2 linked regions of the Homo sapiens genome follow. The protein of the gene in region 2 purifies or fractionates together with the protein of the main gene of each other region. This does not show direct contact. Each region holds a gene or a part of one and is shown on either strand. Other genes may lie near its edges.

Region 1 (3,648 bases), on a different chromosome or scaffold from region 2:
AAAGCCACCTTAAAAGTAATGTTTATGAAAATATTTTTATGACTGAAAGGTACTCACACTAAAAATGTAAAGAAAATAAGCAGTATACATGATGATATGGACGGTATGGTTTGAAATCTGTAAACCAAAGGCACAGAAGGAAGGAAAGACATTAAAAATGTGAAAAGATGAATTTGGGTGATTCTCCTGTTTCCATTTCTGCATGAATTGGGTAGGTCTCTGCAATGAGGACATGAAGATGGATTTGGGTGATGCTCCTGTCTCCATTTCTGCGTGAACTGTATAGGTCTCTGCAATGAGGACATGTTATGGGCTCTGGGCACTGTAATCCCAGTCTAACTGCTTCTCAGCTACGGGGCCTCACACAAGTCACTTAGTCTGTGGTGTCTTTTTTTTTTTTTGAGACAGAGTCTCACTCTGTTGCCCAGGCTGGAGTGCAGTGGCACGATCTCGGCTCACTGCAAGATCCGCCTCCCGGGTTCACGCCATTCTCCTGCCTTAGCCTCCCGAGTAGCTGGGACTACAGGCGGCCGCCATCACACCCGGCTAAGTTTTTGTATTTTTAGTAGAGACGGGGTTTCACTGTGTTAGCCAGGATGGTCTCGATCGCCTGACCTCGTGATCCACCCACCTCGGCCTCCCAAAGTGCTGGAATTACAGGCGTGAGCCACCACGCCCGGCCTGTGGTATCCTTGCTTTTAAAATGGGGTAATGTTTGACCCGCTGCACAAGACTGCTGTGAAAGTGAAGTGAAATCACACATTTAAACTATTTAGCTTAGTGATGTACAAAGTTAAGTGCTTAATAAACAGTAACTAATACTATTAGTATATTACTATTAGTCAAGTCATTATACAATTAAATTCACTTGAAACGGGAGTATATTTCTTACCATCTACAGAACCAAACTCCCTTTCATGTGCACGAGTGAGAATCTCTTTGTACAGTGTTTCTGCTTGCTTGAACTTTCCTTGTTTCAAATAGCAGGATGCCTTAAAATAAAATAAAATAAAATATTTCATATCTTTCAGATGTAAATAAAGCATACATTTTAATCTCCAGTTAAATGAGAAAGTGTTTGGACTTGGGACGAAAGCACTCCTGGCCCCCTCCCTAGTGCTGTGCAGTCAACACACCAGGTTATTTTTCGTCTTAGCCACGTTGGGGTCATCAGGTCCCAGTTTTGTCTGGTAGATCTCGAGGGCTCTTTGATAATAATATTCTACTTCTTCATACTTGCCCTGGTTCTGGCACAGTAAGGCCAAGTTATTTAACTGCTTGGCAACATCGGGGTGATCCTTCCCCAAAACCTGAAAATAAAAAACAGCATATTAGAGACACTTGTTCTGCTTCCATCCAATCCATTCTCCACCCTACTGTCACATCAGGATCTTCCTCAACATAAGCACGACTGTGCTACACTTTCAGATTTAAATCCTTAACTGGCTCGCTACACCACGTAGTAATAAAATAACCAGAATTTCTCAAATTCTTATTCATGAGGGGAGGGAGGGAACTGTGCTCATCTTCTTTAGCTGTGTTAATTACTGTAGTAATCCTTCATGGTAGTTATATTTTTGTACATTGGTTGTACTATGTACAAATGTACACATTAGGCACATTTTGAAGATAAGGAAATGGGCTTTGTAAAGGCTATGTGAGTTTTACTGCCAGCTTCTGAAGAGCCCACAGCTGTCCCAGTTGCCCAGGATGCTCTTCTCCTAGCCCTCCCTACTAGCTACGACTTATCCTTCAGGGTTCTCCTCAGTTCCCCTCAAAGGAGACTTCCCTATACCACCCCACCTCACCTAGTGAACTCACAGGCACATCACCTGGTTGTTCTTTATAAGAATCACTTCTCTAAACTACCTTGAATATTTTTTATTACAATGTAAGCCCCAAGAGTATAAATTCTTTGTCTCTCTTCTTCACCAATGTAATCTCCGCATCGAAAAAGGGGTCTGGCACAGAGATAGATGAATGAACACTAACCTCCTCCCTCAGTACCTTGAACAAGTGATGAGTTCTCTCCGCTTTGTGCCTTTACACATGTGGTCCTCAGGGAGGTAAGCTGCCTTTCTACTCCCTTCTGCATTCCCTACCTCCCCCTGCCTAGGACACTTTTAACTCAATTATTCAAGATGCAGTTCCAACACCGACCTTCCCTGAGAAACCATCCCCAACACCCCCTGGCTCTGGCCCGCAGAAGCCCACACTTCATATCCTCCCAGAGCTCTCTATTCTAGATGCTGATGTGCCCTCTGCGGTCCTCAGTCTGTCCAGTGGACTGTGTCCTAGTGGGAGGAACTACATGTCTGATCTGTAAATCACCAACTCTAAGCAGGGGGCTCTAAATGAATGAAAGGGTAAATATATGAATGAATTTGGCAGGTCATCTTATATGGTTCCTAATCCTTAATTTGATACTTTTGTGCTCTCCCTGACTTTAACTCCAGCCCACCCCAAATTCAACCATTCTATTTCAGAAATATCATGCAGATTGACAGCATGATAAAATATTACCTGTATAATTTGATAAGGAGCCCCTTTTTATTTTCTCTCCCCCAATTCCTTGCCATGTGGCTCAAAATTAACTGATAAGAATCACTGATAAATAATCACAAAAAATACCAGGTTAAAATACCATTTGTGCGGCTGGGTGCAGTGGCTCATGCCTGTAATCCTAGCACTGTGGGAGGCTAAGGCAGATGGATCACCTAAGGTCAGGAGTTCTTGGCCAGCCTGGCCAACATGGTGAAACCCCATCTCTACTAAAAAATACAAAAATTAGCCGGGTGTTGTGGCACATGCCTGTAATCCCAGCTACCCAGGAGGCTGAGGCAAGAGAATTCCTGGAATCCAGGAGGCGAAGGCTGCAGTGAGCCGAGATCGTGCCACTGCACTCCAGCCTGGGCGACACAGCAAGACTCCGTTTCAGAAAAAAAAAAACACAATTTGTGGTCACTCATCGGATAGACCCAATACCCGAATCTTCATAACATCTAAAGAGATTGTCATACACAGCACTGCTGAAATGAACAAGTTGTTATATTTTTTAATACCTAATTACCATGAACTGTAGCAGCTGGTATTAAATATATATGACATTGACTTAATCTATAGCTCTGAGTTAATCTTTAGTTATAATAATAATTATTTCATTTTTCAGCTTCATAAAGCATATTTGGTGAATTTATCTTTAATCATGTTTTTCTTATTGACAAGCACATGTTCCACTGTCAAATGCAATGCTCCCAGGCTTTCCATCTCTAGTCCTCAGACATGTCTTCTTCAATCAGAGTCACTTCTAGGCCATATCAGGCTTGGACAGCATCAGACTCAGGACTGCACCTTTCTAAATGCACACGCCTCATAACTGGACCTTCTTTTCTTTTTTTTTTCTTTAGAGACGAGGTCTCACTATGTTACCCAGGCTGGTCTTAAACTTCCTAGGCTCAAGTGATCCTCCCACCTTGGCCTCCCAAAGTGCTGGGATTACAAGCATGAGCCACTGCACCCAGCCTGTAATTGAGTCTTAAACACTGATTTGTATGGGCCAATCTGGCTTTGTTTTGTGGGCTATTCTCTAATTAAATGAGTTGTTTTCAGCTAATAGTCAGTTAAAAACACATCACAGTGGTTATTTCT
Region 2 (3,648 bases):
CAGCACGGGGCCAGGCTGCTCCCTCCCCCATGACCATTGGCATCTTGGAGTGATCCTTGTGCAAGGTTTTTGCTTCTGGGGCAGCAGGGCTGCTGGGGGGCATGTGGCTGTCTTGGTTTGAGTTTCTGGCCCCTTTTGAGCCATGAGCAGCCTGGTTCCTGGGAACAAGGAATGTGAAAAACTGGGCAAGGTAGCATCCACTCAGGATAATAAGGCAGACCCGAAGGCCAGAGGCAGTCAGGAGGGGTGGGCATCCCGCCTGGGCAGGCCTGAGCAGTCCCTCCACCTAATGCTGGTCCTCGGATCCCTGCAGCCACCCCAGGAAGCAGGGCCCACCCCACTCCCAGTCCCTGCCCAGCCTGGGCTTGCAGCTACCTGCACACATCCACCTCTTGGGTTGTATTCAGTTTAACTTACAGCTTGGGACTTCAGGGCAAAAAGGTAGGAATGTATGCAAGTGAACAATCAGATTTATGCAACTACAGTCTAAGCTTGTGTCTCCAGATTTCCAGCAGGCTTAAATAATGGCGTTTTCATATCCCTGCCACATTGGGTGTCCAGCCCTTGCTTGGGTGGATAGTGATCTGACTTGGGCTGGTAATTAGCCCATATTTTTAGTTCATGGGCAATTCTCAATGGTAACTGGGTCTATTAAACTTGATTCAGATATGACAGCTTAAATTGTAAACAGCTGCGAAGAGTTTCATACTTAATTACCATATTTAAGTTTTGCCATAAAGTGCCTGTACTTCCATCAAAAATGTAAATGTTGGAGACATTCAAATGAGGTTTTATACTTTCGTGAAGTGTAATTGGCACGGATCAGTCAGTTTGTTTAGGAATTTTAAATATTTTTTTAAAAGGAGTTTTAAAGGCAGTGGCCACAGGTCCATTTCTCAATTAAATTGAGTTGTCTGGGGGAGGGCAGGGAGCGGGGCTGAGGCTGGTGAGGCCTGAACTTGTAGACTTGAAAGAGGCTGGTGCTTTCTTCTCTCAGCCAGGGCTTCAGAAGGAAGCTAGATGTTTCCGGCTATAGCTACGAACTCTGGGACTTCCACTCCCAGAAGCTGAGCTGATTAACCCTGGACTGGAATGGCTGAGAGAGGAAGGTGTTGAGATGAATATGGGCTGGGGATAGGTCCTGGGTGGAATGAGGCCTGCACCTCAGGTGAATGTAATTCACCCAGCATTGTTGCCACCTCTGGGAGGCTTTGGCCTGCTCCCGAGGGCAGGGGTGTTCAGATTGATTCTTGCTTTTAGGGTGCACAAAGCTGGGGGAAACACAGGCAGGGGAGCCAGTGACACTTTCACATGCATAGTGCCAGAGGGAGGTGGGTGGGGCTCGAGGAGTCTGGGACTGGTGACAGGAGAGGTGGTGACATCTGAGTTGGGTTTGGAGGGGTGAGGGAGAGTTCCCCTGGGGTGAAGGGCCGAGGTGTGGCCCTTCCTTACAGGTGGGTTATAGCACTGACCGGTTTTGGTCCCCGGGCCTTCATTGACATCTTGCTCCTATCAGGAAATTGACAAGCCTTCTACTCTCTTTGTGGGATCCAGTTATGGTCCCAACCGGAACCTAACTTTCACCTCTCTGGCTGTGGCTCATTTGGGGCAATGGCTGGGCCCTTCCAATTCTGGCTTTTCTGTTCTCCAATTCCAAGGGCTAAGTCCACAGGTAATTAGGGAGGGTTTCTTGGAGGAAGTAAGCCTCACAGTTCATTGAATTCAGGGAAGCCCAAAGGGGAAGGAAAAGACCTGGAGAAGAACAGCCTTTGCAGGCAGGGGCCCTAGAGTGAGAGTGAGAACTTTGGTGGGGCCAGAGATAGTAAAGATGGGGACTCTACTGCCTCTGCGAGGCTATGGCCTTATGACACCCCAGGCTGCTTTGGAGACCTGGGAAGGGCCAGGACCCTGCTCTGCCCAGCAGGCATTCCAGAGCCTGGGATGGAGCTGCAGAAGCTGCAGGGAGGGAGCCAGGGGGCCTGGCCTGGAGGCCCCAGCCCTCCAGTGCAGACTTGCTCTGCCCTGGCTGACACTGCACCCCTCCCCATCCCCACTTCCTGTTTTCAGGCACAGGCTGTTACCCTCACCGTAGCCCAGGCCTTCAAAGTCGCCTTTGAGTTTTGGCAGGTGTCCAAGGAAGGTGAGACTTTGCATCTACATTGTGGGTGTGGTGGGAGGTGGGGAGACACATAAAGGCCCTGGGGTCAGACCTGGACCGACTTCCTGCCTCATCACCCACCTGGCTTGTGACTGTGAGCAGGTCCCTTCACCGCTCAGAGTCTCGGTTTTCCCATCTGAAAAATGGGAACAGCCGTCTCCCTCCCCAAAGGTGCTTGTGAGGATTAACTGACATCCGAAAGGTTTCTTTCCTCCCGGCTGGAAACCTGAAACTGCCCCTTGAGGTTGGCCACCGCTAATCACCCCTGCCCGGTGATTGCTGGGGACAGAGTGCTGGGGTCTGAGGCTCCAACATGTTGTGCCTTGGTCCTGCAGAGAAAGAGAAGAGGGACAAAGCCAGCCAAGAGGGAGGGGACGTCCTGGGGGCCCGCCAAGACTGCACCCCCTCCTTGAAGAGCTGTGAGTCCTGACGGGGAAGGGGGATTGGCCATGCGGTGTTGGGGTTGCGCTTCACCCAGGGGGGTCCCACTCCTGCCTGGGCTGGGAGAGCCTCTTGGTTTTTCACTTGTGTTTTGTTAAATAAATAATACACGTTCATTACAGATCAATTAGAAAATGTAGATAAGGGGAAGAAATAACTCATTTTAGTACATTTTCTTCTAGATATGTCCCTATGCAAATATATAAATATGCGTCTATCTTTCTATATACTTAACATAGTATTGTGTGGTTGCTTAAGAAAACTTAACTATTGTGAATACAAAAGTTTCAGTCTAAGCCATTAGTCAGGTTCTCACTCTGTGGGCAGCTGCGCATCTGCTGTGGGGAGGTGCCAGGGCCGGGCTCTGCTGGGAGGCCTGGGCAAGGCCACATCAGAGGGGAGGGTCAGGGCCAGGACAGCCCAGGGAGGGGGCCAGGAAGGAAGAGGCTGATCTCCCACTGACAACCTGACCGGATCCCTCACAGTGGTCGCCACTGGGAACCTGCTGGACTTAGAGGAGACAGCTAAGGCCCCGCTGTCCACGGTCAGCGCCAACACCACCAACATGGACGAGGTGCCGCGGCCACAAGCCTTGAGTGGCAGCAGTGTTGTCTGGGTGAGTGGTTGTGTGGCCAGCAGATCGGTGATCCTCAGCCTGACCTCTGGGTGAGCCTGGGGCTGCTCCAGGGACCAGGCCCTGGGACCCGTGACTTGTGGGCCTCTGGGAGGACCAGACCCAGCCCGGTAGTGCCCAGGCGCAGGATAGGGGATGAACAATGTCCCTTTTGAACCTGAGGCTGCATCCCCAACAGGCTTGGCTCCCAGCACAGCTGTCTCCTCACAATGCTTGGCCTCTTGGCCTGAGCGTCCACGGCTCTGCCCACCACAAGACCAGCCAAAGGCGCCCTTGTTCTTGGTGTGGCAGAGCTCGCTCCTACCACCCCTCCCCCTCAGCCGCCTGAATGAGGACCCAGAGACTTGGGCAGTCACCAGCTTGGTCCCTGACTCCCTCAGGGACTCAGGGCAAGCCCCCTGACCTCTCTGTCTCA

What was found. The genes of interacting proteins can lie anywhere in the genome.
Region 1: the proteins of LDLRAP1 (region 2) and KLC1 purify together in Homo sapiens (affinity purification with western blotting, with the first as the bait; one study listed by BioGRID). This does not show direct contact.

The regions. Positions count from the first base shown.
Region 1 is NC_000014.9:103,670,676-103,674,323, reverse strand, and holds part of KLC1 (kinesin light chain 1), read right to left. Parts: intron 1,311-3,648; coding exon 1,137-1,310; intron 993-1,136; coding exon 893-992; intron 1-892. UniProt on the Homo sapiens protein: Kinesin is a microtubule-associated force-producing protein that may play a role in organelle transport. The light chain may function in coupling of cargo to the heavy chain or in the modulation of its ATPase activity.
Region 2 is NC_000001.11:25,560,577-25,564,224, forward strand, and holds part of LDLRAP1 (low density lipoprotein receptor adapter protein 1), read left to right. Parts: intron 1-2,067; coding exon 2,068-2,140; intron 2,141-2,493; coding exon 2,494-2,577; intron 2,578-3,084; coding exon 3,085-3,215; intron 3,216-3,648. UniProt on the Homo sapiens protein: Adapter protein (clathrin-associated sorting protein (CLASP)) required for efficient endocytosis of the LDL receptor (LDLR) in polarized cells such as hepatocytes and lymphocytes, but not in non-polarized cells (fibroblasts).